Linked DNA regions of Homo sapiens. The protein of the gene in region 1 interacts with the protein of each later gene in a pairwise test. Each region holds a gene or a part of one and is shown on either strand. Other genes may lie near its edges.

Region 1 (3,749 bases):
TATGCAATGCTAATCTAAAATGTTTTTCCACCTCAAGTGTCTACCGAAATCGTGGAGTAAACTTTATCTGTTCAGCAGGCTGTTTCGGGTAGATTTTGATATATTTTCACTGAACCTCAGGGTGGCCCCTGAGAAATATGCTTTTTGTAACTAGGGGTAGCTCAAGCTTAGAAATAAGGGCAAGCTGGCTAATGGGTTAGTCTGGACCAAATCCCTTTCCACTGGATACCTCACCTACTGCAGCCTGGATGATGTGCAGTCAAAAGTTTCCCCCCACAAGAAAAGTCAGATTGCCCTCCTTTAAACTCTTCCTTGTTACCTCTCTTCACTCTACAGTGAATGCCATCCTGGAAATGCAAACCATCTCAATAATTGAGCCCATGTCCAATGGAATTAAACAATATGCTGACTGTGAAATTACATTATGATTTCTAGAGTGAGTAGCAATATTTTGTCGGATGATGTTGATATCCCTTTGCAGTCATGTGAACAAATAGGAATAGGATCTTCATAGCAATACACAAGATGAAGGTCCTTGTGCTACCCCACACAGTGCTGTCTCCACCTTGCAGGATAAAGGCTGCAGTTCCAAAGCTCCCGGCTGATATCGGCATTTGCTCCTTTGCACCTCTCTGGTCCTCACACAAAGGAGCCTTCAGATGGCTGTGTGTGGCCAGAAGCCAGTCTCCCACTTACCTGACTTTGAAATCTTCCACAACATCCTGCATGTTCCTCAGTTCAGCTTCAAGCCTGCCCCTCTCGGTGGTGATGCTTTCCAGCTGCCGTCGGAGCTCACTGGTATAGGAATCAAAGAGGGGCTCTAGGTTCTGCCTCACAGTCCTGGAGCCCTGCTCCTGCAGGAGGGCCCACTTGGTCTCCAGGACCTTGTTCTGCTGCTCCAAGAACCTCACCTGGAGGGAAGAAGAGAGAATGAAACCTTGAGAAGTTGGAGAGGCAGAGTTAGACACTCCTATTAATAAGGGAGAGAAGAAAAAGATATTTTTTTCACTTGGCACCCATTGACAATAATGTAACTGACAACTCCAACCCAAAAGGAGGCAGTCCATGGAGCTACCGCAAAGTTCCCTAGGGCTTGCATAGGATTCGGGTGGTGGGGCCTAGAGGCTTCTGTTGGGGAGCTGCTCTTGGGTTAAGTTTCTCAACACCACCTACTCTGGGTTAGGGTAGTTTGCTGAGCAGCAACTCTCCTGTAGAGAATCAACAAAACTCTTCCCTTGGTGTTGACTGAACCAGCCCATGTGGCTCCGAAAGAGAGGAAATTTCTACCAGGTCCTGTGGGGCAAGCTGGCCTGACTTGGAAGGGTCTCAGCCCCTGGGAGCCCGTGCTGAACAGTGCTCATTCCCACAGTGGGGTCATTGCATTATTGCTCTCCCCCCATGGGATGGCCCTTCCAAGAGTTTATTTGATCCCAAACCCAAGGGGGTGGATGAAGCCCCTGCTTACCTTGTCGATGAAGGAGGCGAACTTATTGTTGAGGGTCTTGATCTGCTCGCGCTCCTCGGCCCGCACCCGCTGGATGGTGGGGTCGATTTGCAGGTGAAGAGGAGTCAGGAGACTCTGGTTGACAGTGACCTCTTGGATGCCTCCAGGGGGACACACGGGGAAGCTGGGGCCACTGAAGCCTCCTCCAACTCCACCCCCATAGCCAAATCCACTGTTGACTCCAAACCTGTTGCTGGCCCTGCCACCAAAGCCACTTCGGCAGCTGCTGCCACACCCATTGATGGAGACCCGCTTGGCACCCCCCAGGTTGTAGAGGCTGCGGCTTCCAAAGCTGGCCCCAGCACTGCTGATCCTTCCCAGGCCCCCACTCCCTGCTGCAGAGCGGGCCACAGAGACAGAGCTGAAGCGGGAGCGGCCAGCTGCCGGGGTGATGGCCGAGGTGGTGCTGAAGCCCCTGCGGCTGCCAGACTGGAAGGTGATGGAGGACTGCCGAGACATGGTGGGTGAGGAAGGCCGGCGAGAAGGCACCTGAGGTGGGCTGGTACAGGCAGTGGAGAAGACAGGTGGCTGGAGAGCCCTGGTCTCGTGGCTTTTATGAGCATCCTGTGGGGGCGGGGCACTGCTAGTGGAGAGGGCCTTCTGATGGCATTCCCTGGGCATCCGCCAACCCTGAGCTCACACTCGGCATCCCTCGGGAAATGGTGTAAGGGCCACTGGCTGGTTCCCTGGCACCCCCTCCCCACAACGTGCAAACTCCTTTCCAGTTGCAACTTGATCAGCATATGAGTAAGAAGCAAGTTAATTGCTTTCCGTCATGTGCTAATGATGCATCTTGTAAAGGACTCAGCAAACACTGCCTCATTTCTAAACCGCTTTCTTAGGCCTGGGACCAACTCCGTCCTGTCCAAACATCTTGTGTTAATACAAGCCACTACACTTCACTGTTTCCTTGGGGTGCTTCCTATTCCCTAAGCATTTTCTCAGCACCTACTGCCTGGTTCCCCAAGCCCCATCAAGCTGTCTTTCCAAACCTTGAAGGTCGCGCTCTGTAATCATCTTCCTTAGGAATCCACCCCATTTTGATTGCCCCTTTATTCTGCTCTTAAGCTTCCGTGTCTATTGTGTAGGTCACACATGGTTTTCTGGAGTGTATGTGTGCCTGTGCCCTGCCCACTGCAATATAATGTGACTCTCAAGGCCAGCCAGTGCTCTGTCTCCTGGGAAGAGAGGTTGTGAGAGGAGAAAGACTCGGGTTTGAATCTCAGACCTGCTCATAGTTGTGGGACCTTGAGCAAGCCATGAAACTTTTCTGTGCCTCAACTTTCATGTCTGTAAAATGGGGTTTGTAATGAATATTCACATGTGAAAACTTTCGCAATGCCCGGTATATGTAAGTGCTGAGTAAATGTCTATTGAGGCTCCCCTCTTTCTGATACAATCAAGTAATATTAAGGAAGTGCCAACCATGTCCATCCTGTGACTAGTCCTGTGGGAATTCAAAAGAAACACAATGCACATTATTTATCTTCAACAAGCTCATGGTCCTGTTGGGAAGATAAAACTGTACAAGATGGTGTACCATGAATCATCACCTCCAAGCTGCATTTGAGGCTGCCTATCCCAGAAGTCTCCCAGGCAGTTTCCTCCTCCTCCTGAGGACCAAGAATTCCTAGCTCTCCAGTCCTTCATCAAAAGAGCTCCAACAGCTGCACCTAGCAGAGGATTCGTTCCTTCCCTGTTTCTCCTGTTAACCTTGTAGACTGTGCCCTACATTCTATATTAGTCTACAAACCGCAAAGAAGACTTCAAGGCACCTCATCTCTCTGTTCTGCAACTCATTGCCCCATCTCTACCATGGGAAGAGTCAAACCAAAACATTGCTGAATCTTCTTTTTTTTTCTGCCTTGAGACAGGGTCTCACTCTGTCACCCAGGCTGGAGTGCAGCAGCTCAATCTCGGCTCACTGCAACCGCCACCTCCTGGGCTCAGGTGATCATCCCACCTCAGCTTCCTGAGTAGCTGGGACTACAGGCATGCTCCACCATGCCTCTCTAATTTTTTTACTATTTTGTAAAAACTGGGTGTCGACATTTTGCTCAGGCTAGTCTTGAACTCTTGAGCTCAAGTCATCCATCCTCTTTGGCCTCCCAAAGTACTGAGATTACGGGCTTAAGCCACCGCGCCTGGCCTGAATCTTCTTTTATCTTGCTGCCTGCTTTCTTCTTGCTGTGGTTTTGAAGCCTGGGAGAGTAAGAGAGGAATTAATCAGCATTCAGTCTCCATT
Region 2 (3,749 bases), on another chromosome or scaffold:
TCTGACAAGAACATTTCCATAAGTTGTATTTCCTTATGCCTTTTAAGAGCTATTAATTTTTGAAGGCCACCTGTCTCTTTTTTGGCCTCCAACATTAAGAAAACATACACTAATAGGTTCTTATTCATTGCCTAAAATATAGTGTTCCAAAATGAATACCCTACCACTGCCATCCTGGAAAAGGTGTGGAAAACAGATTTCAATGAAAGGCATAAGACATGTAATCTCATCAACAGGTAAACCTGGTTTTTCTGCAGTTCTCCTCCCTAACACCTCTAAATTTATGCCATCTTATACTATAAAAGATGGTATGAAATCCTGCTCATATTTCTTAGGTGTGCTTTATACTTGGTCCCTACCTAACACTGCTATTGCCTGTATTCAGTGCTTCACAATCTAGCAACATTTTCCATCTCATCTCTACATCCTTTCATTCTCACCATGCATGCTGGTGAACTGCAACAATCATTTTTTTGTATAGTACTTTGCTAAGTCAGAGAAAGAAATGGTATAAAACCAGCAACAAAGTGAAGCTCTAACTCGGGGAAAAATTAAGCTTTTACATCAGAAGGAGTGGAGAGAAGGTCTACCATTTTATTTCTAGCATATTTTTTCTTTTTTGCTACCAAGTGTAACTACAAACAGCTTTACCTCTATTCTGAATAGGTATCTCCAAATATTTATGTTGCTCATTCATTGTTCTCAACTCTGCCCTGCAGATTCACTTCATTAGAATCCAAATCACAAAAATCTTTAAGCATTTATATGTCTTGGCACTCCTTGAAGAAGCTTGAAATACCTCATCAGCAGTGACTGGTTAGTTTGCAATTAAAAAGTTCAACTTTTATTCTTAAAATGGTTATTCTATGTAGCTCCCCATATTAGTAAATTAAAGTGCACATAATGTCATGTAATTAACACTAAGAAACAGAACATACATTTAAAATTACCTCATAAACTTGAGCAAGGGAAAAGGGCAAATATAAGCATCAAAATATGGCAGCATAATTTTAATGGTTAAAAGTTTTCAAATATTTGTCAAACCCCCACCTCCACCACCGCACTAAGAAAATGCATTACAGAAGACAAAAAAGTCTATTTTTTTCCCCGAGATTTTTGAAGCTTGCTAAATTCCTATTTGCAGATAAATGTTGTTTTTTTTGTGATCCTTACAACAGACATTAATGAAGTTCCTATTGTAAATCCATAAAGAATTACCAAGTGAAGTGTGCACTTTTTGTTTCAATGCAATAACTCAGTGCTGTGTGATTGCCTGGGTTAATGATGAAAAAGTCAAACATACTATCAGAGCTGATGGAAAAATCTATCACCAATCTGAAATTAAAATTCATCTGTGGTCAATAAGATTTAATATCCATGCAAGTGGCGCTGTAAAGAGTAAATGAATCAATGTCATCAATACATAATCAGTATGAAATATGATGTGAATAAAATTATGCACACGAGTCATACATTTCACTCTTTTCTGGGCCGGTGTGGAATGAACAGTCTCTTAACTGAAGGTTGACAGTAATTGTTACAAATTAGGCACAGCAGTTATCAAAATGCACTCACTTGCATAGCTATAGGACTTATTAAGGAGATTAAAATAGATCTAAAACTATCCAGTACTGGGGGTGCTGGACAACTGTTGATCACCAATTTTCCCTCTGGAATATCTTCTAATACTACATGATTTGTATACTTGTATAATTTCCTAATTTTTAATTCTGGTACAAGGATTTTCAAGTTGTGGATCAAGAATCAAGATACATAATTTCTAATGGCACTATTAATGGCACTAAGCGGGTTAGCAAGAACAAGAACTTGGTTTTAAAAGCCATAACTTATTCAAATGTTATGGTACCGCCAATGAACAAAAATGCCCTCTTATGAAGTTACAGAATGTTTTGTAAAATTACTCTTCTAAAAAGTAAATGAATTGTAAATTGGGTTTGGAAGGCAGGTGTCCAGATTGCTATTCCTAACGCAGAAATCATTCTTTCATAACAAAGATCTTTATTCTCTTTTCCTACCATAAATGTTCTAATTTTTCTTCCACAATAACCTATCACATCATGTTTCTGAATTTCAAAATTGTCAAATGGAATAAATAACCAGTTATATGGAAGCTTTACATTTTGTTTGCTTTTGCATGTGATAATCTTATGTTCAACGTGAGTGAAGCTACAGATATAACAAAGTCAGGATTTTTTTTTTAACTAGAAAGGATTCACAATTTAATCAGCTATCCTACTTCTGAACACTCTATGTACAACTAGTAATCTACATTTCTTTAAAAGGGCATGCAAAAATACAACCACCCAAGAAAACTCTCTTGCTAGGTTAAGAGGTTGAACCTTCCAACTTGCTCTAATAAAGCTTATTAGTAATTGCTGGGTATTCACCTTCTGGTCTGGCAGTAGTGGATTGCTCTGAAGTGAATTCAAATGGCCATTGATGAGAGCTGTAGGTCTATCATGTTCACAAAATAAACTGCCATTGATGTAGTGAAACCGATCTCCCGGGACCAGGCGATTCCGGCAGGTAGAGCATGTAAAACACTGAAAGGGAAAAACAAACCCACTGAAAACAAGGTAAAAATTAAGTCTTTTTTTGGTCACAAGTTTATAACCTGTTATTAAGCAGGTATCTGTCAAGTACAGAGACACTTAGGGTTTAGCGTTTTTTCTTCCTTTGACAGATCTCCAGAAAACAGTAAGCCAAATTGCTATCAACTGGACCAGGCTAAATGGGGACAAATCCAAATACATGTGTACTTCTGTCTGTGGCATAGGGGAAGCGTGGTCTGTGCATGTGGATGTGTAACCATCACTGCCATGCTACAATTTCAATCATTCCTTCAAGTGTCTGCAGCTTGAGAAAACAGTTCATACCAAGGAGAAATGCTTTGCCCCCATGTAGGTAGGAAAGGTATGATTTTTTTTTTAAAAAAAAAAGAGAGATGCAAATACTACCTTAAGATGATACACATTGCCTTGCGCCCTCATGACGAGTTCACTCGCAGGAATCGACTGTCCGCAAGCGCTGCAAGCACCGCTATTTCCAAATAACCTGAAACAAAGAATAACGGTTGACACCAGTGAATAATCCTAAACCAAAGAAAAAGAAAGAAAAACACCCCCAGACTCTGGGCATCCCTTTGGAATGCATTTGACAGGCTGAATTCTTAGGCTCAAGCCTCAGATTTTCTGAGTGATTTACATAATCTGGGAAAAATCCTTTTTGTGGGACAACAAACTTCTGCCTACCGCAGAGGATGCCCCAGATTTAATCAAAATATTGACTTACACCTCTAGCAAATACAATTCTGTTCTACACACATTTTATCAGATTACTAGGTTCATCATAAAAAAAAAAAAGATACAATTCATGACTGGAGTTTAAATGCATTGTGTCCTTGAAATTATATGAAGAACTCTTTTGTACTTTAATCATATCTTCAGATATGAGTCATCAAAAGGGTTAAGAGGATTTGATTGTATATCTAAGAAGACATCATGCTCAGTGTATTGAAACTCCCGTAAACCTCCATCAGTGCAGACTTTCCATTAGAAACTCTCTGCTATCCAGGTTGATATATAATGTGTATGGGTTAACCTTTTCAATCATGGTGTCAACACTTAAGATTTGCCTCTGCTCATCTCTTTCATCCTAACCTTCTCTCTCTCTTGATAATGAAATGCTTGCTCCAACTTCCCTCTATCTGCTCCTGAGTCCACAATTTA

The links. The genes of interacting proteins can lie anywhere in the genome.
Region 2: the proteins of KRT75 (region 1) and LMO4 interact in binary tests that used the Homo sapiens proteins (3 or more experiments, as listed by UniProt).

Annotation. Positions count from the first base shown.
Region 1 is NC_000012.12:52,432,342-52,436,090, forward strand, and holds the start of KRT75 (keratin, type II cytoskeletal 75), read right to left. Parts: upstream 2,031-3,749; 5' UTR 1,964-2,030; coding exon 1,466-1,963; intron 912-1,465; coding exon 697-911; intron 1-696.
Region 2 is NC_000001.11:87,338,862-87,342,610, reverse strand, and holds part of LMO4 (LIM domain transcription factor LMO4), read right to left. Parts: intron 3,076-3,749; coding exon 2,979-3,075; intron 2,565-2,978; coding exon 2,409-2,564; intron 1-2,408. UniProt on the Homo sapiens protein: Transcription cofactor. Plays a role in establishing motor neuron identity, in concert with MNX1, acting, at least in part, to disrupt LDB1-LHX3 complexes thereby negatively modulating interneuron genes in motor neurons.